4 separate regions of the Homo sapiens genome follow, and regions 1, 2 and 4 are each linked to region 3. The links come from fine-mapping of genetic effects on gene expression. A gene starts in region 3. Each other region holds a variant in brackets. All regions are shown on one strand. Distances are from middle to middle.

The links. PIP is the estimated chance that this variant, and not a neighbour inherited with it, causes the effect.
Region 1: its variant is fine-mapped to the expression of SAMD3 in whole blood (TOPMed, PIP above 0.99). The same link has a PIP of 0.9 or more in blood mononuclear cells.
Region 2: its variant is fine-mapped to the expression of SAMD3 in whole blood (TOPMed, PIP above 0.99).
Region 4: its variant is fine-mapped to the expression of SAMD3 in whole blood (TOPMed, PIP above 0.99).

What each region holds. Positions count from the first base shown.
Region 1 is chr6:130,127,834-130,135,942 of GRCh38, reverse strand. It overlaps L3MBTL3 (L3MBTL histone methyl-lysine binding protein 3), which reads right to left. Exons shown (of 23, transcript NM_032438.4): 21 at 2,322-2,491; 22 at 2,038-2,100. Among named protein-coding and RNA genes, the nearest start is that of SAMD3, 91 kb to the left of the region's middle. The variant C/T (reference allele first, on the strand shown) is at 3,534.
Region 2 is chr6:130,146,595-130,154,703 of GRCh38, reverse strand. All of the region lies in intron 9 of SAMD3 (sterile alpha motif domain containing 3), which reads left to right. Among named protein-coding and RNA genes, the nearest start is that of SAMD3, 72 kb to the left of the region's middle. RefSeq lists an enhancer at 1,439-2,059. The variant A/G (reference allele first, on the strand shown) is at 3,039.
Region 3 is chr6:130,219,820-130,227,928 of GRCh38, reverse strand. It overlaps SAMD3 (sterile alpha motif domain containing 3), which reads left to right and starts at 4,978. Exons shown (of 12, transcript NM_001017373.4): 1 at 4,978-5,235. RefSeq lists an enhancer at 4,262-4,371.
Region 4 is chr6:130,188,822-130,196,930 of GRCh38, reverse strand. All of the region lies in intron 5 of SAMD3 (sterile alpha motif domain containing 3), which reads left to right. Among named protein-coding and RNA genes, the nearest start is that of SAMD3, 30 kb to the left of the region's middle. RefSeq lists an enhancer at 1,769-2,269. The variant G/T (reference allele first, on the strand shown) is at 4,834.

The DNA.
Region 1 (8,109 bases), 92 kb after region 3:
TATAAGACTTCGGTTAGATTTGTACTATGGTTTACTTGTAGGACTCAAAACCCAAACCCACTGACCTTGTGAGACACTTGAGAACAAGGACTAGGTTTCATTATTTTCGAATCATCCTTCTCACAAGAGCATGACACAAAGTAACATACTCATGGTCGGAATTTAACAAATGTGCACAAGATGAATGAATGAAGGAGTAAATGAATGAATAATTCATATCGACAGAGAATATTAACTATCTCACTCCTCCAGAAAAGGATCTAGCTTTGAGCATATTTGGTAACTGAGGAACATCTCCAAAGACAATCTGCCATGAATAAAAAAAATTACTCAAAAAATAGCATCTCATTTTGAATTTAAACTTGAATCTTACTCAAACTGAATAATAGAGCAAACCTATAGGGATTATCTAGATAACAACAGAATAAAAAAACAGAAGTTATAAAAGAGATGCATTATAAATTTATTTTCAAAAATGCTTTATTATTTTCAAAGGTAATGACAACATGACATTTTCCAAGACAGACCAACAGCTCCCTATGTGGCTCTAAGTCTGCTCAGCGATACAGAATGAATTCAGGCTGGGCACGGTGGCTCACGTCTGTAATCTCAGCACTTTGGGAGGCCGAGGTGGGCAGATCACCTGAGGTCAGGAGTTCGAGACCAGCCTGGCCAACACGGTGAAACCAAGTCTCTACTAAAAATACAAAAAAAATTAGCCGAGCGTGGTGGCGGGCACCTGTAATCCCAGCTACTCAGGTGGCTGAGGCAGGAGAATCGCCTCTGCCAGGAGGCGGAGGTTGCAGTGAGCACTCTAGCCCAGGAGAGAAGAGCAAGACTCCATCTCGATTTAAAAAAAAAAAAAAAAAAAAGGAAAAAACAGAAAATGAATTGAGAGTATCAGTGAAGACACTCAGGACTTAGGGAAAGAAAATCTGAATAACTGCCAATTAAAGATCAAACAGAGAGAAAATAAAACCTTTGCACAATAAGAACATAAATCAGAAAAAGGATGTTGGAAATCAGATCCTTGTGCATTTTAACAAGCTTTCATCTAACGCATAAATTATACCTAACAGTATAACAACACTGACAACTGGTGGCTGGATTGTTAGCTGTGTCTATACTCCTGCAATGAAATGGAAAGTGTGCTGTTCTTAACAGTTGAGCTTTACACATAGGGGCAAACAAGTTGTGTATGCGTGTAACTGTAGACAGCAGATGTTGGAGAGCACCTTCTGAGATTACTCAGTCTACTTTCTGCCTTCTGGCAGGAGTAGACACAGCCAAAATCAGAGGGGTAATTGACTGCTTTGCTTGGAGGAGATGACAGGCAAGTGGCTTATTTTTAAAGGTCTCTACTGAAAAGGGTCTCCTGCTGTACGCTTACAGAATTAAAAGTTAGAAACCAGATTCCTTTTTATTCTAGTGCTCACTGTAAGTGATATCATTCTTAATCACCCCTTATATTGAAGTTTTGGAGAGGGAGTTGAAAACAACTAATAAAATAATCTTCCAAAAGTGGACTGTGATAAATATCTTATTATAAACATTATTGAGGAATGTATATGACTTAAGGGATTTTTTTAGACATAATGCTAATATTACTTATTATAAACCTCAAATGGAGTCAATCATGGTGTTGTTAGAATGACACTGGAAAATAAAATAATGGAAACTAATTTCACTTTATTAAAAAGAGAAAATGTTGCTTCTTTCTTTCTTTGGCTTCCTCTGTGCTATAAACTATATAAATGCATGCTATTAAGTTCTGTGGGTTTTCTTTTTATAAGGAGCCTAGTGTTACTGCTGTGGGGTATCATAAAATGGTACTCACAAACATTCTTATGCATCTCATCTTATACAAAGACATTTTTATACAACTGATTCATACTGCCTGTTAGTATACATCAATTTGTCAATTTCAACACACCCCATCTCTTTTTGACTCTGCCAATTCCACACATTTCACCTTCCACTGCATTTCAGTGCTTTGATCCCATTAAGTAACATATTGCAATTTAGTGGAATACTTACTTCATCTTTAAATACCTTTCCATGTTCTTCACACCCAGGTAAGCTCTGTATAAATTCTGACACCTGTCAAAAGCAATATCAAAATTCCCAGTTAAAAAACACAGTCAGAATCTAAATGCTACAGGTTCAAAACATTTAACCCATATGCATTAGTTATTTCTCTCACAATAATTTCTTCTCTTTCAGAAAAAAAAAGACTAAACGCTACCTACGCTCAATGTTCCACACCTCTTAAGCCAGTAATCCTGTATCTGGTGTCGGGCAGCAAAGAAAATAAAATATACCTCGTCTGTGCTCCATTTGGAAACTTTACTGGCAGGGATTCCTGCGACAGTTGGAAGAAGTTTGCTTTGCTGCTCCCAGCGCAAGGGCAGACATGGAATTGGGGACTTAAAGGACAGAAAGACAGCTGACCGACGCTGTGCCTGCTGGACGGTGGGTTCTTCCCGGGCACCTGGTCAATGAAAACAAATGGGAAATCACTCTCTGAAAGCAGCAAGAAAGCCCCAAATGCCGTGCATCTCCCAGATAACGAGACTGGAGGTGGGAGTGGTTAAAGCATTGGTTCCTTTCAGCATTATACTATTGAATAGGCTCTTCTTTGTCTTTACTGAAGGTCACTATAAAAAACAACCTGTAAATTCAACTGATATCATTTGCTACAGCACTCATTACTAAAGACATGCTTCATTATGTTGTTCAACGTTGTCTCTTTAATGCTTCAGATAAGAAACGTGCCTCAAAGTTTTAATGGGAAGGAAAGTTAGTCTTATTCTAGGAAGTTGTTTATTTGCTCCCCTTTCTGCTTTGGATGTTGTAAAGGTAACAGCCAAGTTGCATCTCACGTCTAACACCTGTGCTTACCATGTATTCACAGTTGGCATACTTTCTCTCTCCTTTTGTCTCAGGGCTTGGTTTGGTTTTTTAACTTCTTATTTACTAATCATACTGATTTTTTAAATAGCCAATTCAATTTTTTGACAGGGATATGAAATTATTGCAATAAAAATAAAACAGCAGAAATGCAAATGTTTTTGTAATTTTTTACTTGTTCAGATCAAAATTAAAACTACTAAATATTCTTACTGTAGCCTGGGCAACAAGACAAGGTCCCATCTCTTGAAAGAAAAAAAAAAACCCTACTGAATATTCTATTTATGTTAGAGCTTCTGAACCCAAAGCTAGTTTTATGGCTGCTTTCCTAAAACGGCCATTCTCTAGCAAAGGATTTTTGTCCTCTGGACGCTTGACTTAGAGCTGTCAATCGTCGTCTCCTTATGGTCCTTTAGAACAGAAACCTTTTCTGAAAACTCTGTATTCAAAGCACCTCAGAAGAAAGGCACCTCCCATACATTTCCTCTCTGCTCACACACCAGCTCAGTTACAAGGACACCTCAATTCTATCACAAAGCCTTGCTTTTATATCTCTAAGATCTACAGAAAGACACAGAAATCACTAAGTGTAAAGTTCACTGAATTTTCACAAAGTGAACACA[C/T]CCATGTAACCAACACCCTGACTGAAAACAAAACGTGGCCAGCACACCCTTCCAATCGCACCTCATCTGTCAAGGGTGACCACTTCCTTGACTACTAACACCATAGATTCATTTACCCTTTTTTGAATTGTATTTAAAATGGAAACTTGGGTATCTGGCTTCTTTCTCTAAACAGCATGTTTCTGAGATTCATCCACATTGTTGTGAGTAGTAGAAGTTACCTTCTCTTTCTTGTATGGTTTTTGTGGCTGTGAATACTCTATAATTTATTTGGAGATCATGAACAATGAGCATCTGAGTTGTTTTTAATTTGGTGCTATTACAAACAGTGCTATTACAAACATTCTTGTACAGATTATTTTGTCAGAGGCGTTTGAACCAGAGCAACTCCATCTTGAGCAGGAGCTGGGTAAAATGAGGCTGATACCTACTGGGTCTGAGACAACTGCATTCCCAGATGGTTAAGGCATTCTAAGTCACAGGATGAGCTAGGAGATGTGGACAAGATACAGGTCATAAAGACCTTGCTGATAAAACAGACTGCAGTAAAGAAGCCAGACAAAACCCACCAAAACCAAGTGACCTCTGGTCGTCCTCACTGCTACACTCTCACCAGCGCCAGGACAGTTTACAATTGTCATGTCAACATCAGGAAGTTACCCTATACAGTCTAAAAAGGGGAGGCACAAATAATCCACCCCCTGTTTAGCATATCATCAAGAAATAACCACAAAAATGGGCAACCATTTGGAGTAGTCATTCTTTATTCCTTTCCTTTCCTAATACACTTTTGCATCCTCACTTCACTCTCTGGACTTGCCCCAAATTCTTTCTTGCGCGAGACCCAAGAATCCTCTCCTGGGGTCTGGACTGCGACCCTTTCCTGGTAACAATTTCTTGAATGTACGTATGTGTTTCCATTGCACATATACCAAAGAGTGAAACTCTGAGGTCGCAGCATGTGTGTACATTAAGCTTTGGTAAATCCTGTCAGCTTTCCAAAACAACTGCAGAATACCTACCAACAGCATATGACAGTTCCAATTGCTTCACCTCCACACCAATGCTTGGTATTGTCTATCTTTTTCTTTTTAACCGTTTAGTGGGTGTATAGTGGTATCACATTATGGTTACAAATGCATTCCATGATTAATGATAATCTTTCCCTATGTTTATTGTCCACATAGAGAGGCTCTTTTGTAAAGGGCTTATTTCTACTAGACAAATTTCCAATAGATAAATTTGGTTAAGAAATGACTTCTTTACAATATTGAGTCTTCCAATCCATGAAGAAGCTAAATCCCTCAATTTCTTTGGCTCTTCTTTAATATCTCTCATTAATATTTTGTCATTTTCAGGTAGAGATCTTGCACATCTTTTGTTAAATTTATTCCTATGTATCAGATGTTTCCTGAGGCTGTTATAAGTGGTAAATTTTTAAAAAATTTATTTCTTATTGTTCTGTTACAGTTTTCTAATAAGTTTATTCTTAAACTAGCCTAATCCAAAATTTGAATTGCTCTGAATGCTAGAAAGTCACTATGCTGAGTCAAAAATCTATTTTACTGGAGTTGACACCCACTGGTTCTGGTACTACCTCATTGAGCTTATACAGAAAAATTCTAGTGTCTGCTCCACATGAAACATTTCAAATCTTCAAATATGTTTTAAAAAGCCATCATTATCCCTCTTTCCACATTTCATCCAATCAACCTCAAAGGTGCAGGTCCTCATCCCATTTTATTGAATATCTATTATGAACCAAATACATAAAGCAGAAAGTTTGTTTTTATTCTCTTTTTCTTTTTGAATTGCCCAGATTTAAGGAATTTTTGTGTAGCAAAATACGGAGTAACTTAAAAACATCTTTTTAATCTCAGGTATTCTAAAGAGCTTAGCTATTATTTGAAATACAATATTTGTACATATTTTATAAGACAGCTTTATATGAAATGGTAAGATTTCCAATTCTACACTACAGTAATACCATAGGGCTGACTTTATAATTTGTATCCTGAGTGCATGCCATATAATTAGTCTTTTCCAAAGCCATAGTCTTTATCCTATTACTGTTTATGTTCTATTAACACTCAGCACTGTTCATTCTATCACTGCAGACCTACTCTTCCATTTTATTTTCTGCTAAAAGCTGTATTAGTCACAATTCATTTCTAATGTTCCGCACATTGTTCCTTAGAAAAATAACTAACCCATTCTAAGGAAATGACTAAAAACACCAAAGCCCTTATGTCTGTGGTTGCCTCTGCATGTCTTTAAGCCTGATACGATAAATAGGCCTAGATATACATACTCTTCCAATCCTAGTACCAACTCTGCCTCCTTCGCATTAAGACTTTCCTTCCTTTTGCTGAGTCTTCCTCGCTAACTGATGTTATCTGCCACACAGCATGCCACCTCCTATGATTTTAATCCAAAAGGAATAAAGAAAGCAGCTTCATTTGAGCAAATTTGTACTGCATTCCTTGAATTGCAAAGAAAAGTGACTCCAGGTTTTTGTTTTAACATGTTATGACATAGGCTAAAATAAATGCAAATAGACTCTGGCTCCAGTAGGTGGTTCAGTGCCAAGAGTAAGGAAGAGTAGGTTTAAATGTGCACAGTATGCCTCGGGAAACAGAGCCTCGTGTTCTAAAGACATTTCAGCCACCTCCCTTTGCCTGGGACCCTATTTCGTACCACTCTCCTCTCAAACCATTGACATGCATGGAAAAGAAAATTTTTAAGAAGTTTTCTATATTTCTGAAGTTTTCTGTGATGAAAATTGACCAAAGGTATGTGATCAAACTCTTTTCTCACTTGCCCCACTTGGTTTCGGGTTGTGTGCTTCCACAGTGAGTAAAAAATATTTTAGGCTGACTGCGAATAACTAAAATTACCATATGGAAGGAATGGTCATCCTTCCTGATTCTTGATTCAACAATCTGATAAATTTTATTTGTAGAACCAAAGCTGTCATCCTCAACAGTGGAAAGATAAGAATTAAGAGAAAAGTGACAGTACATTAAAATGGACACAGTATACTGCAGAGAAAAATAATAATATTCATTATGTTTATGAACAAATTAATCTATTCAGTCTAATGTTTAATCAAATAATCACTACTTTTAAAAAATTTTCTCAGTGAGGCCTATACATATGTATGAGAAAGAGACAGACACTAAAGACCTCTAGTCATGAATAAGAGGCATAAAGACCAATGTTTTGTTGAAAAAAAGATAAAAAGATTTTTGTGTGCCAAATTTGAAGATCCAAATCTACCTACAAGTCAGACAGGACCAGCTGAAAAGTAGCTTCCAGTCTTAGAACACAGCACCACCAATATCCCTGGCCCTACACACCATGAGATATTGCACGGTATAAGGAATGTACTGTTAGGATCTCTTTTATACTCAAATTTCAAACATTCACTGGCAAAGCCCCAGTAAGAGGTGCCTCTACCGACCCTGCACCTGTGCACCTCCAACAGGGTCAGCAGATGCTCTCTGGATAGATCGGATGGATGGCACCTTCCAGCGAGATAAAAGAATGTCTCCCATTCTTATCTTCATCATGCACTGGTATGCTAAAGAAACCACAAAACACTCCAAGGAGCAGCTTTGGGCAAAAGTCTTTTCTCTCACCTGGAAAAGATTCCTTCTGAGTTATCATCCACTGACTCCACAATTCCAAGTTTAGAAGTTCATCTTAAGAAAATAATGAAGCACGAACGCTAACAATCATCTCAAAGTCAGTTACAGTGGAGGGTCTCTGGTACGTATGTAACTGTACTGAGATGAAGACTATATTCCCCAGCTTCCTTTTCAGCTAAAAGTGGCCATATGACTAACGGACATAAGCAGAAGTGGAATCTACAACATCCTGTGAGTTCTGCTAATTGGACTTGGAAGTGCTCTTAAAGGCTGACAGCACACCCACCACCACTCCCCCAATATGTCCCTCCTTCCTGCTGGGTAGAATAGTACTTTAATGGCTAGCCTTCCAGCAACCACCTCTAACCATGATATGGTGTTGGGAATACGTGCTCTGCAAGGCAGAGCAGCAAGATAAATGGAATCTGATTTCCTGACACTGTTAAGTACCATTTAAATCCTGGACCAAGCTCTGTACTTCCTTTATGTGGAAGAGAAATAAGCCTCTTTTACCTTACATAAGCCACTTTATGTGTTTTATATTACACACACACACACCCCCCTAACCCTAATCACTACTAAAGTTTACTGCAAAAACATTTATAACAGTCAGAAATACAAAATAACTAGCCTAGATAACCCAACAGTAGGGGATTGGTTTGTTAAGTGATGCTACATCCATCCACAGAGAGAATATTTAACATTATGTTGCAAGAAGTATAAATACTTATGCAAACTGCAGGTTACAAAGTATTTTGTACACTTCAGATAGAAACAGTCTAAAAAAGTAGGTCCCCACATTCAGAAAATGGTATAAAATTACACATAATTTTGATTTTCTCCATTTTGCTTCCCTGTATTTGCTAATTGTTCTATAATAAACGTATTATTTGGATAATAAAAGTTATATAAACTAGCAGCAGGTA
Region 2 (8,109 bases), 73 kb after region 3:
TTTTTTTTCAGACAGAGTCTTGCTCTGTCGCCCAGGCTGGAGTGCAATGGCCTGCGATCTCAGCTCACTGCAACCTCTGCCTCCCAGGTTCAAGCGAATCTCCTGCCTCAGCCTCCTGAGTAGCTGGGACTACAAGTGTGTGCCACCATGCCCAACTAGTTTTTGTATTTTCAGTAGAGATGGGGTTTCACCATCTTGACCAGGTTGGTCTTGAACTCCTGACCTCAGGTGATCTGCCTGCCTTAGCCTCTCAAAGTGCTGGGATTACAGTGTCCAAATGGATTTTTCCCTCTTTCCTCTTGGAGTGGTAACAGGACAACATAGCAAGACAGTGGGGGTGAATCTCAGTGGGGTGTGAGGCCCAAAGGCTGCAACTAGAGCCATTTGATAGGAATTTCAGGAAGCAGACCCTCCCCACCCACCCTCTTTCCTAACCATGAAAAAGGAAAAATTAAAAAAAAAAAAAAAGAATTTCAGTAGCATATTCAGATAATAGGCACCAGCTGCCTTCAGAACTAAAGAGTTCTCTGTCATTGGACATATTGTGGAGGGTGGCGGATCATCACTTAGGGGTATTTTGACAGTGTGAATCATTATTCCCTTTCATGCTTTTATGTAATCAAGGTAGTTTATTAAGGAACTGTTATTATGCATCCTTAGTAAAAATACGTTTCCTTTATGATCCCAAATAATTTCATAAGTGTCCTTAAATATATATGAAATTTAGGGCCAGGCATGGTGGCTCATGCCTGTAATCCCAGCACTTTGGGAGGCTGAGGTGGGTGGATTGCTTGAGCCCAGGAGTTCAAGACCCGCCTCAGCAACCTGGTAAAACCCCATCTCTACTAAAAGTACAAAAATTACCCCAGCTTAGTGGTGCGTGCCTGTAGTCCCAACTATTCTGGGAGGCTAAGGCACGAGGATCACCTAAACCTGGGGAGGTCAAGGCTGCAGTGAGCCATGACTGAGCCACTGTACTGCAGCTTGGTGACACAGTGAGACCCTGTCTCAAATTTTAAAAAATAAATAAATAAATAAATATATATATATATATATGAAATTTAATGGGTAAATCAATCAAATACCCTTCCATTTAGTTCACTTAGAGTGGCCATTCAAGGTTCTTTCACAATTTTAGTGTAATTTTTGGTGGTGGTATATAATGAAAGATCATCAAAGGTTTTACCCGAGAACATATTTCATGGAGAAATTCTATGTATTCAATTAACCAAATTAAACATGAAACATCTACATATTTTTCTTCTGAGCAAAGGGAAATAAGAATTGCCTGTATTATTTTAATAGAAACATAAGTAGCAAATATCTGAATGCTTCTCTGTAACAGCATGTTCTCAGTGCTTTCCACGGATTAATCTACCTAATCCTCTCAGCAACCATACTGTGGCTTTCGCTTGTTTCCCCTTAATCTTCAGGTTGTAAGGAACTGTAATAGCCAGTCATCTCTGGCTGTTAGAAAAGTATGCCAAATGGACACATCTGCAAAATACAGTTTTAAAGCAAAAGCCTGTCAAACTTACGGTCTATACACTCCTTACATGTAGGGAGCACGTGTTAATATTAACAGTTCCCAAAGTGCCTAGCAGAGCACCACGTGTGACACAGCAATGTAATCTTGATTTTGTGAATGCTGAGTGAATTAGTGGAGGTTGGTAAGGCTGTTGTGATCACTAATGTCGTAGCCTTAGGGGTCTTCATTGGAGTGTGGCCTACAAAGGCTTAGTGATGAATATAAATGGACTATGTTAAGCAGCTTTTCAAAGAACCATTGGTGACAGTAAGGTGGAGGTCTGTCATAGCTTATGTGAGGAGCAGAGAGATTTCAGACCTGATGCTGTCCCCTGTGCTTTTGTCCAGGCCTCCTGCTGTGGCATAGGTGTATCTTCCGCACCATTCCTCAAGTATTTCACCCTTTATATCCAAAATATGGAGTATGGTTTTTGTAATGACTGTACTTATTGAATAGAGTTGCCTGTTGATTGTTTTATTTATTTATTTATTTATTTATTGAGACAGAGTCTTACTTTGTCGCCCAGGCTGGAGTGCAGTGGCACAATCTTGGCTCACTGCAGCCTCTGCCTCCCAGGTTCAAGTGATTTTCCTGCCTCAGCCTCCCAAGTAGCTGGGACTACGGATGCACGCCACCACGCCTGGCTAATTTTTATATTTTTAGTAGAGATGGGGTTTCACCATGTTGGTCAGGCTGGTCTTGAACTCCTGAGCTCAGGTGATCCACCTGCCTCAGCCTCCCAAAGTGCTGGGATTACAGCTGTGAGCCACCGTGCCCGACCTGATTGTTTTAGACAAAAGAACGAATCATTTTCGGTTTTTCCAGGAAGTACCTCCCTGACTCAGCCCTAGGCAGCTGGGATTTCCAATTTATAAAACTCTTGTGTGCCTCCTAAAATAAAAGCAAGTTTGACCTCGCAAATACCTAGTTAACAAATGATCCCGTAAGAGGACAGTTGTCCCTGCACCAAACCACCCCCACCGCCTGTTGCTCCTGCCATTGTGAAAACACTGAGTGCTTAGGGAGCTGGTGGAGACAGGGTGGCAGAACAGCAGCAGCCGGGGTGGGCGGTGGTCCTGGCTGTTAACACTGACCCCCCATCACCTCCATGCTCATTAACCTCCTTCCTCAAAAAACTTTCTTTCAACAAGGCATTTAAAAATTCAGAATGTAACCATTTACTTTATTAGATTATCTAAAATATTATCAACTAGGAATGTGTTACTGGGATCTACTGGATGTTGCACAAGACAAGTAGGAGGGAGTTGAGAAGGAAAATACCAAACACAAACTGAAACCCTTCCCCAAATTTTCCAAAAAATCCTTTCAGATGCCATAGTTTCTGCCTTCCTGAGAAACAATTTCAATCATCATCTCTTTAAGTGAAGTACGTGAGAATCGCCAGCTAATAAAGTCTCAAAAAATTAAAAAAATCGGCCAGGCATGGTGGCTCATGCCTGTAATCCCAGCACTTTGGGAGGCCGAGGCGGGCAGATCACCTGAGGTCAGG[A/G]GTTCGAGACAAGGCTGACCAACGTGGAGAAACACTGTCTCTACTAAAAATACAAAATTAGCCGGGCGTGGTGGCACATGCCTGTAATCCCAGCTACTAAGGAGGCTGAGGCAGGAGAATCGCTTGAACCTGGGAGACGGAGGGTGCGGTGAGCCGAGATTGCGCCACTGCACTCCAGTCTGGGCAACAAGAGTGAAACTCCGTGTTAAAAATAAATAAATAAATAAATTTAAAAAATAAAGAATTTGAGTTTGGTTTTGGCCCAAATGGAGTAACTGGTACTGGTCTAGTCTTCCCACTGTTAACATGGATAAAGCTGGAAAAAAAAAATATGTATGAGGCAACTGCACTCAGGCATTAAGGTACAGGCAATGCAGGACCCTGATCCTTGGTAACGGAAAGACATAAGATGTGCCTCAGTTTTGTGCATGGGTTACTTTCTAGCTCACTGTACAGAATGGTGGGAGGCAAGCAGCATGCGGAGGTCTCATGGAGCTGCACAGGAAGAGATTAAAGTTGAGGAATGATGAAGCAGCTGGCCTTTGTAGGACAGGCACTGGAGGAAAGTGGGCTGGGCCGAAGTCTACACACGGATCCCCTGGGGATCCTTGGCTGAGAGCCGAGACTTCACACAGTGTTGCTAATAAGAATTCAGGCTAGGTGTGGTGGCTCACGCCTGTAATCCCAACACTTTGGGAGGCTGAGGCAGGCAGATCACTTGAGGTCGGGAGTTCGAGACCAGCCTGGCCAACATGGTGAAACCCTGTCTCTACTAAAAATACAAAAATTAGCCGGGTGTGGTGGCACACACCTGTAATCCCAGCTACTCAGGAGGCTGAGGCAGGAGAATGGCTTGAACCTGGAAGGCAGAGGCTATAGTGAGCCGAGATTGTGCCACTGGACTCCAGCCTGGGCGATGGAGTGAGATTCTGTCTCAAAAAAAAAAAAAAAAGAATTCTGGCCCAGTGTGTAGAGACCCTGCAGAACACCTCAGCATTCATCTGAGACTCCAGAAAACAATGCCTCATGAGTGAGAACCATGCCTAAGTTTGAGCCAGGACCTTAGCTAGGACTAAGGACAAACAACAAAACAGAATTGCCGAAAGAAATGATAAAATCAAGTCTGACAGGACCAGAAGATCCACCATAATTTATCTGCCTATCAGAACAAAATTTAACACCCTTTAAAGGAACATAATTTAATCCAGACTCCCCACTAGTGGATCACTAGAGGTTACAGTGAGCGGCGCCATTCCCATTTCCAACTCTTGGTTCCTGGACCCATGAATTCTGGCTATGGAAGAAACTGCACTGTATGCTGGATGCTGATTCAGAGCTTATACAGCCTGGGAGAACCTTGTCCCAGCCCCACAAGGTATTGCCACCTAGCTGGTGCTGTAACTGAGTCTTCAACAGGCCACTCCACCAGTCTGGCAAGCCAGCTGCTTCAGGACAGGACGGTGGGGAACAGGATAAGACCAGTAAATTCCATGTATCATCACCATAGGGAATCTCAGCAGAGAAATGAAATACACGCACACACACACGCGCGCACACACACACACATGAACCAAATTGAAATTCAGAGCTGAAAAGAACAGTTATCTGAAATGAAAACATCACCATGTGCGTAGGCTTAAAAGCATATTGGAAAATGAAAAGAAAGGAGCTGTGAATCTGCAGATAGATTAATAGAAATTATCCAGTCTGAGTAACAGAAAGAAAAAGGATTAAGATGATTAATTTGTAGGACATAATCTGGGGTTGTGAAAAGGGGGGCTTTCTTTTTGTTCCAACTTTTAGGTTCAGCAGGGGATACGTCGTGCAGGTTTGTTATATAAGTAGATTGCATGTCGTGGGGGTTTGGTGTACAGGTTATTTCATCACCCAGGTAGCGGGCATAATACCCGATAGGTAGTTTTTCGATCCTCACCTTCCACCCACCCTCTAATCTCAAGTGGACTCCGGGGTCTATTGTTCCCTTCTTTGTGTCCATGTGTACTCAGTGGTTAGCTCCCACTTATAAGAAAGAACATGCAGTATCTGGTTTTCTAGTCCTGCATTAATTTGCTTAGAACAATGGCCTCCAGCTACACCTATGTTGCTGCAAAGGACATGATTTCATTCTTTTTTATGGCTATGTAGTATTCCATGGTGTACATGTACATTTTCTTTATCCAGTCTGCTATTGATGGGCATCTAGGTGGATTCCATGTTATTGCTATTGTGAATAGTGCTGCAATGAATATATGTGTGCATGCGTCTTTCTTTATATTCCTTTGGGTATATACCCAGTAATGGGATTGTTGGGTCAAATGGTAGCTCTGTTTTAAGTTCTTTGAGAAATCTCCAAACGGCTTTCCACAGTGGCTGAACTAATTTACATTCCCACTAGCAGTGTATAAGTGTTGGAGGCTTTCCTGTGGCTGACCATTCACAGCTGGGAGCTTGGCTACACAGATGTTAGTGCTCATAAGTAAATACACTGAGATATAATGGGAGCCAGGAATCTCACTGTTGAAGAGAGTTAGAAGCTTGGGAAGGGGAAGGTTAGGAAAAGCCCTGTGGTATTGGTTTGGAATTGAAAGTATCAATGTGAATTCATGGTTTTAGTCTTTATGTATGGCTATTTAATATTTACATATATAGTTATTGGTGTTTCTGGATCAACGGGTGCCTTTGTTTATGTAAATTCAAACATTTCCTAGATTTCTTCTATGAGAAAGTCTAAAGCAATAACATCTCCGTAGCAAGTTGCACACCAGGGCTGAAATCTTGGTTTTTTTTGGTTGGGTTTTTTTTGAGAAAGTCTCTCTGTTGTCCAGGCTGGAGTGTCATGATCATGGCTCACTGCAGCCTTGGCCTCCCAGGGCTCAGGTGATCCTTCTACCTCAGCCTCCTGAGTATCTGGGACTACAGGCATGTGCCACCATACCTGGCAAATTTTTGTATTTTTTGTAGAGACAGATTTCGCCATGTTGCTCAGGCTGGTCTCAAACTCCTGGGCTCAAATGATCCTTCTGCCCTGGCCTCCCAAAGTGCTAGGATTATAGGCATGAGCCACAGTGCCTGGCCTGAAATCTTAGTTTTTAAAGCCATTCTTCATGAAAAGGAATTAGGGTTCGTGGAGAAATAGCTCACTACAGGGTTGGGGGCAAAACAAAAATGAAAACAACAACAACAAACCAAGACGAGTCAAGACGAGTCTGAAATACTGTGTAATGCCAGAAATGAAGGAAGTGCTTGCACACTAATAAGGACATGCCAAGAGGGCACGGCAGTCTGTTTGAAGCGACTCCTACTGGCCAAGTCTGGGCAATTCGAGCAATTCTATAAATAATGAAAGGATCAGATTTGTAACCGTTTGGGTAAAATGGGAATTGATTAACCTGTAGTGATAGAAATAAGTAAGTAAATATATGTGGAAGAAAAGAAACTATCTTAAAATAGAAAGCCAACTAATCCATGTAGAAAGAAAGGAATTAGAAAAGTCACCATTTGGCAACTATTGTAGTAGTACTTGATTCAGGCAAGAATCATTAATGGATGTGGAATCTGATGGATCAAAGTTATACAAGGAACAAGATATTGACATAAACTCAAGGTATCTCCTCATAAAATACAACATATATTAATTTTACGTGGAAAAACCTGGTGAATTCCATTTCTAATCAAGTAATAAAAATTATCTCCAATACTGGGACCAGTTACCATTTTGTGCTTCCGGACACAGTGAGAAATGCTAATATTCTTGCCAGAAATGCATAAATCTTGAAATATCATAAAACTTCCAAGGAGAAATGTTCTACAAAGTAACTGGCCTCCACTTTTCAGAAACCGTCAAGGAAACTAACAAGTTGTTTCAGACTGGAGACTAGAGAGGCGTGGTATCTAAATCTCATATGGGATCCTGGATTAGATCCTGGGCCTGTTAAGAATATGACTGGAACAACTGGCAAATTTGAATGGAATGTGTAGTAGATTTTCCTGAATTTGGGTGCTCTTGTACTTAGGAAATACACAATGAGGTATTAAGGAATAGTGGGGCATTGTATCTACAGCTCATTTTCAACTGGATCAGAAATTGGGGGAAGCTGCACAGAGGGCACTTGTAAGTTCTGTTTACTATTTCTGCAACTTTAATGCAAACTTGAAATTATTTCAAAACATAAAAAGTCAGAAAAGAAATTCTTAGGCTATGAGCCCAGAACAGTGGCGTATTCACCTCCTTCATCCTTCCCTTCACATCTTCCTGCTGAGAAAACGGTTTTCTAACGGTATTAATCTAGATTAGTGGTCCACTGTGGGTTGCCTGGTAACAAAGCCACTATGCCTTATGCATTCCAGCTTTCTGACAACTTAACTTTCAGACCTAATCTCTAGGCAATTTATGATCTACCAAAACATTCAAGGAACAATGAGGCCCAGTGGGTAGTATGTGATTGTTCTTTATAGTTTTAGGAAAAGCAATGACTAAATTAATTCACTGGAGTGTGGGTGGCTAATAATCTGATAATGCCACTGTCAAAAACAGGAGGGGGAGTGGTGGTGGAATCCTCTGAGGGGGAAGAGTTCAGGCAGTGGTAGGATGGGGTAGTTTGAGGAAAGGGACTTCCATAAAGTAAACTGGTTTTGCTTTGAACTTGTAGTCAAATCTGCACATACATTGTTTCTTTTTCTTTCTTTTCTTTTGAGACAGGGTCTCACTACGTTGCCCAGGCTGGAGTGCAGTGGCACAGTCTCGGTTCACTGCAGTCTCGATCTCCCCGGGCTAAGGCAATCTTCCCACCTCAGCCTCCTGAGTAGCTGAGACTATACACGTATGTTGCCATGCCCAGCTAATTTTTGTGTTTTGTAGAGACAGGGTTTTTCTGTGTTGCCCAGGCTGGTCTCAAACTCCTGGGCTCAAGTGATCCTCCTGCCCTGGCCTCCCAAAATGCTGGGATTATAATCATGAGCCACCGTGCCCAGCCATATATCGTTTTTCACTGTTTACCTCTGTCTACTCTTAGTTTCTAAAGCACTCTCCTTTACCTAAATTTAGGATACTATGGTTAAGTATTTGTCAGGG
Region 3 (8,109 bases):
TCTCGTTTCCATTTAGGAAACGAGAGGATTTTACCAGGTGTGGAAGATCCACATAGGTCTCCGTGTCTGCTAATGCTGCAGCAGGAAATCAGAGGACGTCGAATGATTCCTTTGATTTTTCTTTTCTTTTTTTTTTTTTTGAGATGGAGTTTTGCTTTTGTCGCACAGGCTGGAGTGTGGTGGCACAATCTTGGCTCACTGCAACCTCTGCCTACCAGGTTCAAGCGATTCTCCTGCCTCAGCCTCTCAAGTAGCTGGGACTATAGGCACATGCCACCATGCCCGGCTAATGTTTGTATTTCTGGTAGAGACGAGGTTTCACCATGTTGGCCAGACTGGCCTTGAACTCCTGGCCTCAAGCAATCCACCCACCTTGGCCTCTCAAAGTTCTGGGATTACAGGCATGAGCCACCGTGCCTGGCAAGATTCCTCTGATTTTTTGAACTATCAAAAGCAGACCACTAAAGCAGAGACTTGAGCAGCTATTTGCACACCCCTGTGTTCGTATCAGCGTTATTCAAAATAGTCAAAAGATTGAAAAAGCCCAAATGTCCACTGTCAAGTGAATGGATAAACAAAATATGGTATATACATCAAATGGAATATTACTCAGCCTTAAAAATGAAGGCGATTCTCACACAAGCTACATGAATGAACCTTGAAAACATTATACTGAGAGAAATAATCCAGATACAAAAAAACAAATATTGTATGATTCCACTTATATGGCATACCTAAAATAGTCAAATTCATGGAGATAGAAAGCAAAATAATGGTCATCAGGGACTAGGGCTGCAGGGTGAATATGGGAGTTATTGTTCCATGGGTACAGAGTTTCATTTTGGGGATGATGAAAATGTTCTGGAAATGGATAATAGTGATGGTTGCACAATAATGTGAATATACTTATTGTCACTCAATTGTACCCTCAAAAAGGGTTAAGACGGTAAACTTTACATTATGTATATTTTTGCACAATTTATTTAAATGTAAAAAATATCAGATTACTGTATTTATTGTACATCCTTAGCTTTATGAAAAATCCTTGTAAACACAATGTTACTAATTTAATTTCAGTGATGTAAATAATTTTTTTTTTTGAGACAGAGTTTCGCTCTTATCGCCCAGGCTGGAGTGCAATGGCATGATCTCGGCTCACTGCAACCTCCGCTTCCCAGGTTCAAGCGATTCTCCTGCCTACAGAAAAGCTACACTGACAGTAGCTGGGATTACAGGCGCCTGCCACCATGCCCAGCTTATTTTTAGTAGAGACGGGGTTTCACCATGTTGACCAGGCTGGTCTTGAACTCCTGACCTCAGGTGATGCACCCGCCTTGGCCTCCCAAAGTGCTGGGATTACAGGCGTGAGCCATGGTGCCCGGCCCCTCATAATTATTTTTATAAAGTGTTATACACATTTCTCAAAGGTATAATTTGTGCATAATGACATTTGGGGATGGTGTGCTAACTTTGACCTATAGGGCTCTGTACATTGGAAATAAATCATAATAAATCTTTCAATTGCTCCTCAAACTTGGCTGATCATAAGAATCAATGGTAATGATTAGAAATACTATAAGAACTCACTCTACCCACCTGAATCAGAATCTTCTAAGAAAGGGCTTAGGAATCAATATTTTCATGAAGTACACCCCTTGTTCTTATATTAGGTAAGTTGGAAAATCATTCTTAAAAATAAAATTCTGAATTCTGAGTTCAACAGAGAGAAACACAGGGGATCAGCAGCAACCTCTGCACCCTTCAATAACACCTCAAGCTCCAGTCTGCCCATCAGGCTCTCCAGAAAGGTAGAATGACAGCTTCACTAATACCCCTTCCTGGGAAAAGCGGCGCTGTCCTGAATTACTGCAGATACTTCTGCAACAGTGGATAGAAGACTGTACCAGGAAGAGAATAACTGGATGAGATAACTCAACAAGTGATCACATCAATTAGATAAGAAGGGTGATGTGATCAGAAGACAATGGAGCCAGGATTAAGCCAACATCAGGCTGACCCCTCAATTTCCTTAGGCGTCTCTCCTTAGCACTTTACCAGGAATAGGTGCCCAGGCAAGCATTTTTCAAGCTTCCAAATGCCAAGGAGTTTGAAATGACAAGTTAGTTTTTGGCCTGGTTATAGAAATACTGAATTTTCTCATATCTTAAGCTTTTTGGATGACCTAATATATGAATAAATATTTTTCCTCTTCTTCCAACTACTCTCACCTTTATATTGGTGTGCCACATTTGTTCCCATATGTAATCAAAGAATGGTAGAAGTGAGTAGGCAGCAGTTAAGATTGGAATGTAAGGATTTTTAAAAATAAGTTTACCTTGGAACAATCTAAAGAGGAAAGCTATGTGCTATTATAATCCTTACAGTCTTTATTTCTAATATGCCTATCTTACTGAAACTGATCCAGTAGTCCCATAGACAGTTTTTCTTAAATATAGAAATTAATCCTTCTGGTTTTAAAGCTTGAAACTCACCAGATCCAGACAATGAGATACCAGCCTCTCATTCATTGTAATTGCTCCCTTACTCCTTCCACATTCTTGTTTTCCCATACATATTTAACATTTCTTCCCCGCTATATAAACCTCTAATTTTAGTTGATCAGGAAGATGGATTTGAGACTGAGCTCCCATTTCCTGGACTGCAGCACCTGATTAAAGCCTTCTTCCTTGGCAATACTTGTTGTCTCAGTCGTTGGCTTTCTGTGCAGCAAATAGCAGGACCTAAACTGAACCCCTGGTGTTTCAGTAACATTATTTTTTACTTGTTAATCATTCACATAACCTTTTCCTCTCCTCCTTACTTTCTTCCCCATGCTCACTCACTCTCTTGCTCAGTACTGCTCTCTGTCTCTGTCTGTCTCTCTTTATCTCTCTCTAACACACACACATACACACAAATTCAGACACACAGACTCATATTTAATGATGGACTATAGCCTACCAATTGGTATGAATTTTACCTTTTGGGCCAACTCTAAAAAGAGTGCTTCGGGCTGGGCGTGGTGACTCATGCCTGTAATCTCAGCACTTTAGGAGGCCGAGGCAGGCGGTTCATGAGGTCAGGAGATCGAGATCATCCTGGCTAACACAGTGAAACCCCATCTCTACTAAAAATACAAAAACTTAGCTGGGCGTGGTGGCACGTGCCTGTAGTCCCAGATACTCAGGAGGCTGAGGCAGGAGAATCGCTTAAACCCAGGAGGTGGAAGTTGCAGTGAGCTGAGATCGTGCCATTACACTCCAGCCTGGGTGACAAAGGGAGACTCCATCTCAAAAATAATAATAATAATAATAATAATAATAATAATAATAATAAATAAATAGAGTGCTTTTGCATAAACAAAAGTTTGAACATTCTGGCCCGTCCTCACATGAACCTAGGGCTGGCAGAAGCATGAGCATTTGTCACTCATGAGAAACACAGGGTCCTATGCCTTTTTGTGTCTCCACACCTCCCATCTGTGCTTTGCTTTTGATACGGGAGGCGGGCAGGGAAGTGCTGGGTAGAGAAGAATGGGGTCCCTGGCTAGGGCTCCACCCTCAGGCCTGTACCCATGGACGTAAGTGAGAACAGGCACTCCTGTTTTCACGCCCAAATGTTGCATTTTCCAAAAGCACTCTGGCCCGCCACACCCCCATCCTCTGCCTATAAAAACCCTGAGACCCTAGCGGGCACAGACACAAGCGGCTGGACATCAAGAGGAACACACTGGCAGAATACACTGACAGACTGGCAGGACATCAACAGCAGTATGATGTGGACCACGTAGAATTTGCCTGGGGGTGGTTGGAGGAGAGTCAGGCCACTGAGCGGCCTGACTCCAGGGGAAGACCGCCTTCCCATTCCATTCCCCTTGTGGATCCCATCCATCTGCTGAGAGCTACTTCCACCAGTCAATAAAACTGTGCACCCATTCTCCAAGCCTACATGTGATTCAATTTTTCTGGTACATTAAGGCAAGAACCTTGGGATACAGAAAGCCCTCTGTCCTTGCGATAAGGCAGAGGATCTAATTGAGCTGATTAACACAAGCCACCTGCGGATGGCTAAGCTGAAAGACTGCACTGTAACACACTCCCACTGGGGCTTCTGGAGCTGTAAACACTCAACCCTAGGTGCTGCCATGGGGTAGGAGCCCATGCTCCCCATGACCTGCCCGTCTGCATGCTCCCTCTAGGGGTTTGAGCTGCAGGGTACTGAAGAAGCGAGTCACACCCATCGCACGCCCTGCAAGGGTGTTTCCAAGTTTCACTTTGAGTCACACTGCATTAAGAAGATCCACTACCTTGCATCCCCTTCTTCCTGAAGAGGCCTACAAAGTCAGACCAGCACTTAGTGTTAACAGATCAAGAGAGCCCAGCTTGACTCTACCAGCTGAGCAATATAGGTGGATACAGAAGTCACCTTTCATGTGTTCTAACAAATGAGTAACTCCAAAAAAATAGTTGTAATATTTTAATAATGTAAGTTCTTGCCACTACTCAGAGCTATAAAATGTTCAGCTATCACCTGCACTATCACGTACACACTGAGCTATGTAACGAGAATTACATTCAGCCAATGTCTGCTAAATAAAGGTTTGTGCATTTTAGTTCAATGATGTAGCTACAAAGAAAATGAAGCCTCAAGACACTAGAACCTTCTGAGATGCAAAGCTTTGAGTCCTTGACTTTGAATTCAATGTCTAAATTCTAATACATTATTATTATATCTGCCTTAAGATTGATATAGGAAATTTTTTTTCTAGTTAGTGTTATTTCTTCTAGGAGCTTAAAAAAGGTAACTAAGGAAGAATTAAATGTTCCAAAGATATATTATGGTAAACATGTATGTACATACATGGGTATTTGTCACACTTGTCAGAATCTTCTTCCTTTGAGAGGTGCAAACGTTAGCTGTCTGAGATCCACCCTGTTTCAAACTTACCTTATGCTTCCTGTGTACTGTGAGGCTCCCAGTCTTGCTGTCTTTCAATGGGGCAGCCACTGCTCAGTTGCTGCCATTCAGAAATATGAACCCAGTATCACCAGAACTTTTGATTTTTCAAGAGAAACCAAGATTCCAGATTTGTAGGTGATATCTTCCATTTTTCAGATAAAACAAAGGAACCAGAACCACATCCACTGATCGGATTTGCCTGGGGAGGAGGGGTGCTCTCTCCTTTGATCTTCTCTTCTGGAAGAGATGGACCAAAAGCCTCTCCAGCAATAATCCGTAAATATCACTTTTTACCTTTTCTCTATAAAACTCTAACTTTTCTGATATTAAGATAAAATTCTTTCATTGAGAAAAATTTAAGAGTGGCAGATTACAAACAAAAAACATTAATTCCTCCAAACAGAGATTGCCACTTCTGCCTTCTAGTATATGCTTTCCCAGCCTTTGTGTAACCAAGCATTTCATTCTACTTTTATTTTATTCTTTCCACAAATCTGAATCATACTATTTTAAATTTATTTGCAGTTAACCATATCCATGACTGTTTCTCTCTACATAGTTATTTGTCTAGATACAATTTTTGATTACTACATAGTATTTTATTTTAAATATAAATTACTGTAATTCATTGGCCAATTCCTATTGCTGGAAATTTTATCTGTCCAATTTATTTGCTATTCGGACCATTGCTATGGCACACATCTTTGTGTTCATTTCTGTTAATGTCTTTAGGCACATTCTTAGAAATGCTATTTTGGGGTCAGAATGTAGAAATATTTTTAATGTTTTTGGCTTGCATTAGTACCCTTTAAAGTTGGATAGATTGGATTCAAATCACTTTTACCTTTACAAGCAAAGGAACCTTAGGCGAGTTACCCTGTAAACTCCAGGACTTTCAATTATAAAATGGGAATAATATGACAGGGCAAGTTGTGCCACTTTATACTCCCCTTAGCAGTGTGTAAGAGAACAACTGACCTTGCATTCTTGCTAATTTTCACCTTTTCCAATGGAATAAATGAAGATGGTATTTAATTATTTTTATTACAAATAATGTAGATTTTTCAGATACTGGTTTAAAATTTTGTTCAAGAGTTACCTATTCCTATTTTTTTCTATTGGTGTATTAATTTTTTAGTTGGTTTTATGGATTATAGAGTTGACCCTTGAACAACATGTGTTGGAACCTCTCAGGTCCACTTACATGCAGATTTTCTTCTGCCTCTGCCACCCCTGAGACAGCAAGACCAACTCTCCTCTTCCTCCTCCTCCTCCTCAGCCTACTCACTGCAAGACGACGAGTATGAAGATCTTTATGATGATCCACTTCCATGTAATAAATAGTAAATGTTTTCTCTTCCTTGTTATTTGCTTAATAACATTTTCTTTCCTCTAACTCATTTTATTGTAACAGTACTGTATATAATATATATAACATACAAAATATGTGTTAATTGTCTATGTTATCAGTTAAGATTCTGATCAATAGTAGGCTATTAGTAGTTAAGTTTGGGGGTAGTCAAAAGTTACTTGCAAATTTTCAACTGCATAGCAGAGTCAGCGTCCCAACCCCTGTGTCGTTCAAGGGTCCACTGTGATATATATGTGTACACATGCGTTTTTCCTTTTTAGTCAAATCTATCAATATTTTATTTTTATTATGTAATCTTAGATTATTTTAAACTCTTTTTAATTTTTCATATTTACATATTTAACTTATCTGAGGAATTTATTGTGTAGGTGTTATGAGGCATTATCCCAACAAAATATATTGACTAATCCCTTCTTTGTCACCAATTTTAAAGATCTTTTCACTGGCTGGGCGTGGTGGCTCATGCCTGTAATCCCAGCACTTTGGGAGGCCAAGGTGGGCAGATCACAAGGTCAGGAGATCGAGACCATCCTGGCTAACACAGTGAAACCCCGTCTCTACTAAAAACACAAAAAAATTAGCTGGGCGTGGTGGTGGGCACCCGTAGTCCCAGCTACTCGGGAGGTTGAGGCAGGAGAATGGCATGAACCCGGGAGGCGGAGCTTGCAGTGAGCCGAGATCGTGCCACTGCACTCCAGCCTGGGCAACAGAGCGAGACTGTCAAAAAAAAAAAAAGATATTTTCAGTACTTCCATATGAATGTTTCTGTTTCTAAGTTTCTATTCTGTTTCAATATCTGTTCTCTTTTCCTCCAGTACCATGCTGTTAATAGCATAACATTTTTTAACATCTGGAAGTGCAAGTCCTTTTGTCAAGCATTTTTCGTTCTTTTTACCTATTTATTCTTCCACATGAAAACTAGCCTCATAGTAAGTAAAACATATAACCACGTATGTATATTAATTGGAATTTATAAATTAATTCTGAGGGAAATGACATCTTCAAACTATCAAGACTTCTCAGTCACACATCCAGCTTTTCATAAAATTCAATAGCACAGTTCACAGTTACCATCTCTGGCAGGACTGTAATCTGTGTTGCTGAACCATAAGCTTTGGCTGTCAACGAGGCAGAAGCAGGGATAAACCATAAGTTTGACTCAAAGGCCAAAACACTAGGGTGTTTGTGACTCAAAAGTTCCAAAGTTCTGGGACTCTGGCTCATTGCTATTTTTGTTCATTAATTTAACTAAACCTCCCAGATAAGTGGCTCTTTAGTTTCTTTGAAAATGTAAAAATTGGCCAGGCTAGTGGCTCACACCTGTAATCCCAGCACTCTGGGGGGCCGAGGCAGGTGGATCACAAGCTCAGCAGTTCGAGACCAACCTGGCCAACATGGTGAAACCCCATTTCCACTAAATATACAAAAATTAGCCTGGCATGGTGGCACGCGTCTGTAATCCCAGCTACTCAGGAGGCTGAGGCAAAAGAATGGCTTGAATCCGGGAGGTGGAGGTTGCAATGAGCCGAGATAGTGCCACTGCACTCCAGTCTGGATGACAGAGCGAGACTCCATCTCAAAAAAATAGAAAAAGAAAAAAATGTAAACATATGAAATTTAAGTTACTATGACTGTGCTCACCACTTTTTCCTTCAAATTTATTGGAGGTGTTGTGAATTACAGACAACTCTGATAAGTCTTGCTAGATAAAAAGAACCAATGGAGACACTAATTTTTATAAAAGTAAGATTTTAATAACTTAAGCCATAGGAAATTAC
Region 4 (8,109 bases), 31 kb after region 3:
TTATCAGACTGTAGAGAGGTGGGAAGGCTAAACTGAGGAATTATGTCTGACAGAAGGGAAGAAATGACTGCGGTGGCCTTCTCAGACCCTGTAGGAAAGGCCTCTACCTATCCAGTGAAAGTGTCTACCTAGACTAAGAGGTATTTTAGTTATCTGACTCGGGGCATGTTGAGTAAAGCTAATTTGCCAGTCCTGGGTGGGGGCAAATCCTCAAGCTTGATGTGTAGGGAAGGGAGGGGGCCTGAATAATCCCTGAGGAGTAGTAGAATAGCAGATGGAACACTGAGAAGTTATTTCCTTGAGGATAGATTTCCACGATGGAAAGGAAATGAGAGGTTCTAAGAGGCGGGCTAGTGGCTTGTACTATAGCATAGCCTGCCTTTGCTGGTGTGTGGCGATTAGGCCTGGTGGAGCTGCCATCAATAAACTAAGTGTGATCAGGGTGAGAAACAGGGAAGAAGGAAATGTGGGGAAATGGGGTGAACGTCAGGTGGATCAGAGAGATACAGTCATGAGGGTCAGGTGTGGTATCAGGAATAATGTGGGAGGCCAGATTGAAGTCTGGGCCAGGAACAATGATAATTGTGGGACTTAACAAAGAGTGAGTACAGCTGAAGGAGCTGGGGAGCAGAAAGTATATGAATCAGGTATGAGGAAGAAGATAGATTTTGGAAGTTATGAGAACTGTAGAGAGTGAGTTGAGCATAGTTTGTTATTTTAAAGGCCTCTGAAAGTATTAGGGGGGCAGGAGCCACTGCACGGAGACATGATGGTCAGCCTAAAACAGTAAGGTCAAGTTGTTTGGACAAAAAGGCTACAGGACGCGATCCCAGTCCTGTAAAAATTCTGACTGCACAGCCCTGCACTTCAGCTGTGTGTAATGAAAAGGGTTGGGATGAGTCAGGGAGAGCTCGGTTGTGGGCAGTCTCTAAAGCTGTCTTCAAGGAACAGAAAAACGAGTGGGGAAAGGATTTAGGATCTATGGGGTCAGCTAGGTTTCTTTTTGTGAGTTTATATAATGGTTTTGTTAGGATGGCAAAACCAGGTATCTAAAGTCGAAAGTATCTAACCATGCCTAGGATGTAGAAGGTGTTGGGGTTTGAGAGATCAGTCAGACATGATCGGCAGGGAGAGCACGTGTGTTTTTATAAGAATTACGCTGAGACAGGTAACAGATGAGGAAGAAATTTGAGCTTGACTGAAGTAATGAGGGATGTCTGTGAAGCCTTGCAGCAGTACAGCCCAGGTAATTTGCTGAGCCTGATGGGTGTCAGGGTCAGTCCAAGTGAAAGCGAAGAGAGGCTGGGATGAAGGGTGCAAAGGAATAGTAAAGAAAGCATGTTTGAGATCTAGAACAGAATAATGGGTTGTAGAGGGAGGTATTGAGGATAGGAGAGTATATGGGTTCGGCACCATGGGGTGGATAGGCAAAACAATTTGGTTGATAAGGCGCAGATCCTGAACTAACTTGTAAGGCTTGTCTTGTTCTAGGATAGGTAAAATGGGGGAATTGTAAGGAGAGTTTATAGGCTTTAAAACACCATGCTGTAGCAGGCGAGTGATAACAGGCTTTAATGCCCAAAGCGTGCTGTGGGATGGGATCTTGGCATTGAGCAGGGCAAAGGTGATTAGGTTTTAATGAGATGGTAAGGGGTGCATAATCGGTCACCAAGGAGGGATTAGAGGTATCTTATACTTGTGGGTTAAGGTAGGGGGATACAAGAGGAGGACATGAAGGAGGCTTTGGGTTGGGGAGAAGGGCAGCAATGAGATGCGGCTGTAGTCCAGGAATAGTCAGGGAAGCAGATAATTTAGTTAAAGTGCCTCAGCCTAATAAGGGAACTGGGCAGGTGGGGATAATTAAAAAGGGGTGCTTAAAAGAGTATTGTCTAAGTTGGCACCAGAGTTGGGGGGTTTTAAGAGGTTTAGAAGCCTGGCCGCCAATACCCACAACAGTTATGGAGGCAAGGGAAACAGGCCCTTGAAAAGAAGGTAATGTGCAGTGGGTAGCCTCCATATTGATTAAGAAGGGGACAGACTTACCCTCCACTGTGAGAGTTACCTAGAGCATCTGTGATGGTCCTGTAGGCTTCCAAGGTGATCAGGCAGTGTCAGTCTTCAGCTGCTAAGCCGAGAAGATCTGGGAAGGACTCAGTCAGAGAGCCTTGGGCCAGAGTTCCATGGGCTCTGGGAGTGGTTGCCAAGTGAGTTGAACAGTCCAATTTCCAGTGGGGTCCTGCACAGATGGGACGCGGCTTAGGAGGAATTCTGGGCTGTGAGCATTCCTTGGCCCAGTGGCCAGATTTCTGGCACTTGTAGCAAGCTCCTGGGAGAGGAGGTTCTGGAGAAATGCCTGGCCGCTGTGGTTCAGGCATTTGGAAGTTCTTGTGTGCTGGAGATGTGGCTGGGGTTTGTCTCACAGTGGAGGCAAGGAATTGCAACTTTTTTCTATTATTGTACACCTTGAAGGTGAGGTTAATTAAATCCTGTTGTAGGGTTTGAGGGCCAGAATTTAATTTTTGGAGTTTTATTTAATGTCAGGAGCAGATTGGGTAATAAAATGTATATTGAGAATAAGACAGCCTTTTGACCTTTTAGGGTCTAGGGCTGTAAAGTGTCTCAGGGTTGCTACCGAACAAGCCATGAACTGGGCTGGGATTTTTATATTTGACGAAAAAGAGTCTAAATGCTAACTGATTTGGGAGAGGTCGGATAAAGAAAAAGGAGCATTAACCTTGACTATACCTTTAGCTCCAGCCACCTTTTTAAGAGGAAATTGCTGGGCAGGTGGGGGAGGGCTAGTCGCAGAATGAAACTGTAAGCCAGACTGGGTGTGAGGAGGGGTGGTGATAAAAAGATTATAGAGTGGAGGAGCGGAGGCTGAGGAAGAATTGGGACCTAGCTCGACCTGGCGAGAAGCAGCCTGGGGAGGAGGGGAGAGGTCAGATGGGTCTGGAGAAAAGGAAGATTAGAAAGACCCAGTGACGCTTGGGGTTGGGACTGAGGGGACAGGAGGGAGGGAAAGAAGGAAGATTTGGGACAAGTTGCATTGGGCACAGAGACTAGGAAGGGACTGATGTGTAAAAGAATGCCTGGACATCAGGCACCTCAGACCGTTTGCCTATTTTACAACAAGAATTATTTAGATCTTGCAGGATGGAAAACTTGAAAGTGCCATTTTCTGGCTATTTGGAACTACTGTCGAGTTTGTATTGGGGTCAAGCGGCATTGCAGAAGAAAATAAGGCATTTAGGTTTTAGGTCAGGTGTGAGTTGAAGAGGTTTTAAGTTCTTGAGAGCACAGGCTAAGGGAGTTGGAGGAATGGAGGGTGGAAAGTTGCCCATAGTGAAGGAGGCAAGCCCAGAGAAAAGGGAGAGTAGAGACACAGAGGGAAGGGGTTCAGGGGTTCTTACCCTCCAGAAAAGCGGGAAAGGGGTCAGGGCACAGAAATAAGGGGTTGGGGCACAGAGATAAGAGGTCGGGGCGTGGAAATAAGGGATCAGGGCGCAGAGATAAGAGGTCAGGGCACGGAAATAAGGGATTGGGGTGCAGAGATGTAAGAGGTCAGGGCACAGAAATAAGGGATCGGGGAGCAGAGATATGAGGTTGGGGTACTTGCCCCTCCCCCAGAAAAGTGGGACTTGCTGCTAAGTGTGAAGGAGAAGGGGTTGGGGGTTTCTTGCCCCCCAGAAAGGCGGAGAAGGGGTAGAGACATGGAGAGAAGGGGTTGGGGTACTTGCCCCTCCCCCAGAAAAGTGGGACTTCCTGCTAAAGGTGAAGGACCAAGGCAGGTGTCCCTGTGTAGTGTGACACCTCTGAAATGTGGGTGAATAATCAGAGAGGCGTCCCTGCAATGATTAAACACCAAGGGAAGGCTGCCTTCCCAGTCTGTGACTGGCACCGGAGTTTTGGGTCCACGGATGAAACGTGTCTCCTTTGTCTCTACCAGAAAATGAAAGGAATTGAAATTAAAAGAAGGGAGAGATTGAAGTGTGGCGCCAAGATTGAAAGGAGAAAGAGGTTGAGGGATAGTGAGGGAGGTTGGAGAAGTAAGTAAAAAGAGGCCACTTACTGGATTTGAAATTGGTGAGATGTTTCTTGGGCTGGTTGGTCTGAAGACCTGAGGTCGTAGGTGGATCTTTCTCACGGAGCAAAGAGCAGGAGGACAGGGGATTGATCTCCCAAGGGAGGTTCCCCGATCCGAGTCACGGCACCAAATTTCATGCGCGACCGTGTGAAGAGACCACCAAACAGGCTTTGTGTGAGCAACATGGCTGTTTATTTTACCTGGGTGCTGGTGGCTGAGTCCAAAAAGAGAGTCAGCGAAGGGAGATGGGGTGGGGCCATTTTATAGGATTTGGGAAGGTAAAGGAAAAAGGGGGGTTGTTCTCTGGTGGGCAGGAGTGGGGGTCACAAGGTACTCAGTGGGGGAGCTTTTGAGCCAGGATGAGCCAGGAGAAGGAATTTCACAAGACAATGTCATCAGTTAAAGCAGGAACAGGACATTTTCACTTCTTTTGTGGTGGAATGTCATCAGTTAAGGCAGAAACCGGCCATCTGGATGTGTATGTGCAGGTCACAGGGAATATGATGGCTTAGCTTGGGCTCAGAGGCCTGACACCTGTCTCTTAAAAAAGAAAAGAAAACACAAGTTTATAGAACTACAGACCATCTTTATCAATCATACAATGTTATATTTGATATTTTATATCTTTCTCAAGCATTGCTAAACCTTTCTACAATATTTTTGTCACAAACTATTTCATTCAACAAGGACGTAGGAAAATCAAGACAGATAAGGAGACTAGATGTAGTTGAGTGCTCACAGGGCCA[G/T]TGTTGGACCAGGCCAGGTGGGGGATTCAGATGAGGAGAACCACATGCATGGCAGGAGTGTGGCAGTGAGTAAAATCTACCTGAGAAGAAGGCTTGAGATAAACCTAGAAGAATGAGGGCAACTGAGGGCAACAAAGTAAGCGAAGAAACTGCTAACACATGCATAGTGCATTCTGGAGATTTAGTAAGGCTTGTGTCTGGACTGGATCTGAGAATTCACATTGTGTAGCAGTTGATAATAAGAGAGTACAAAAACTTCTAATTAGTAAATATGAAGAATTCAAATTTGGGATTTTAAGAAATTACAGACCATTGACTTTTATTTTTCTCATAGAATTTTAAAATCCTATCACCTGTTTTATTTGTAGAAGTAAAAAGAGAATGAAAAAATTCCTTTAAATTTAAGTCAATGAAATTGGAAGCACCAATTTCAACAAAGCGAGAAACTGCGGCTCAGTTAAAAAAAAAAAAAAGGAAGGAAGCAACAGTTTTAAACTCTTAAGCTTCCTCTAATTCGAAAAGAAATACTGAAGCTTTCTAGTTTGAAAATTCAAGAGCTTACTTTTTCCCTAAGGCAATATTATCTACTTTCATGGGGATAAAATAACTGCCAAACACTCAATAGCTCCAAAAGGGGTTTAAATACAGAGAACAGACTCAGTTTTCCTTCCAAATGCGAATGTTTATATCCAAACATGTCAACAAATCATAGTTATTTTCCTCTTCCTGGGGAGCCCCAGGAACCCAAAGGGATGATAATTAAGGGATGGGCCTGGCTCACAGTTGTCCTCAGAAATAGGAAGCAGTAACTCTCCTCTCAGGGAGACCACATACTGAAGATGTTAATTGGTCAAAGAGACTGACATAGTAAACTCTCACTGCATAGTAAACTCTCACGGTGTCTAATTGTTGGGGGTAGAAGAATCCTGAATCACCCATGTCACTCAATATATATATGGGTTACATTGTCGGCAAACAGGAAGATTATCATGCATATGACAGTTGGAAAATGTGAAATCATGCAAAAGGCAGATATCTAGTATGGTCAAGTATTGAATGTGGACTTGCAGGTCTTCTATATACTTGGTCTTTAAACTATGGGACTTTTAAATTTGAAGTTAAATTCTACATTGGTTCCCAGTGGTGTTTCAGTACCAGAAATAGTGTTTGAAATTGGACATGATTATAGTGTCAAGCAAGATTGCCTTATTTTGCTTGGACCTTCAACTATGTCTTGGTTCCAAAAGTAGCCCTGGAAGCCATTGGCCAGCTCTACCTGGCCCCTCCACTGACCGACATGATTAAATCGGTGTTTATGTAAAATTGGATGATGGATCACAGAGGAGAAGGGTTTATGGCTATATAGGGGGATAAATTGTGAGGAGCTGCAATTAGAAAAAATGAGCTACTTTTCTTATTTTTTTTTAATCTCTTTTCCCAGTGTTTTTCAGATTGGATCATTTCTGTTGATCTGTCTTCAAATTCAATGACTATTTCCTCCTAAATCTCCATTCTGCTATTAATCCTATCTAGTACAATTTTTAATTTCAAATTTTGTATTTTTTTCTTCTAAATTTCTATTTGTTTCTTTTAAACAATTTCTATTTCTTTGCTAAATTTTCCTATCATTTCAGTCATTCTGGCCTATATGCCTTTAATTCACTGAACATTGTTAGAATGGCCGCTTTAAAATCCTTGCCGACATCTGGTTCATCTTAGCATCACATTCTAATGATTATCTTTACTCTTGAGGATGGATTACATTTTCTGGGTTTTTTTTTTGTACGTTACATAATTTTGGATTAAATATGAATGTTACAGTGTGGAGTCTCTTGAATCTGTTGTGTTCGCCCAAAGAGCGTTGACATTTTGTTCTAGGAAACCGCAAAATTGGTTGGACTCACGTGGAAAACTCAGTCTCCTGGTGTCAGTTAAAATCTGTTGAGTTCTTTTATCTTTAGTCCAGTTATGCACATGTGTAGTTCAGGATCATCCAGAGATTTGAACAGTTTATACACAGATTGTGGAGTTTTCCCTCATTAGCTCATTCTTTTCTGGGGTTTTCCTCTCCTTTTCCACATAATGGGTTGCCCGAAATCCTGCCCCCAAGTCTTTGAGTCCAGAAATACTACAGGTTTTTCTATTAGAGTTTTGGCAGCACAGCATGAGGCCTGCCTTCAGGCCAAAAGCCATGAAAAGGGAACCTCATCAAAGGCCCAGTGTCTTCCTCTTGTTCTAAGTGTAGGCTTCTTTTCAAAACCTGCATTCTGTTTTTCACATTTCAGTGTTTTCAGTTAATTTTTTTAAAATGTGTTTAATGTTTATGGTTAATGTTTCTGAGACAGCTGGTCCAGTGGGAGCTCATTAAGCCATTCCAGCAGAACTCTGCTAGGAGACTACTGAAGCAGTCCACATTTGAGTGGCGAATACTTGGATTAGTGTAGTAGCATGAACCATGGAAATAAGTAAATAAATACAGAGATAAAATGTAGGGAAAATTTCATGACACTTAGGAGTGAAAAATGAAGGTGAAAGACATCACGATGTTAAGCTTGAGTTGCTAACAGAAACGGGTACAGTAAAAGAAACAAGGAAATTGGAATTCTGTGTTAGTCCGCACAGGCTGCCAAACAAATACCATAGACTTGGTGACCTAAACATAGAAATTTATTTTTTGGTGGTTCTAGAGGCCGTAAGCCTGAGATCAAGGCACTGACCTCTTCCATTTCTGTTGAGGACCCTCTTTTTCACTTGCAGATGGCTACATTTTCTCTCTGACCTCACATGGCATACAGATCTTTTAAGAATACCAATCCCGTCATCTCAGGGCCCAACCTTATGATTTCATTTAACTAAATTACTTCCATAAAGGTCTGTCTCCAAGTACAGTCACGTTGGAGGTTAGGGCTTCAACATATAGAATTTGAAAGGAACACAATTCAGTTCCTAGAAAATGAGAGCCTAGTTTTTGTTTTTTGGTTTTTTTTTTTTTTTGGTTTTTTTAAAGATTGTGAATTATTTTGGATTTGTTGAGTATGAGATGAACAATGTACAAGTTGTTGTTGGAGATCTAAGATGGAGCATGGAGAACAGATTATTGATGATAGATTTACAATCCATCAACATAAAGCTCAGAGCTGAGGCCATGGGGCTGGATGAGTTCTCTGAGGAAGAAAGCAAAAATCAATACAGAGGATTAAGGGGGCAGGAACCAAGCCATGTGCAAATTCTCACAGAAAGTAAAGGAGGTATAAATCAGCAAATAAACAAGTTGTC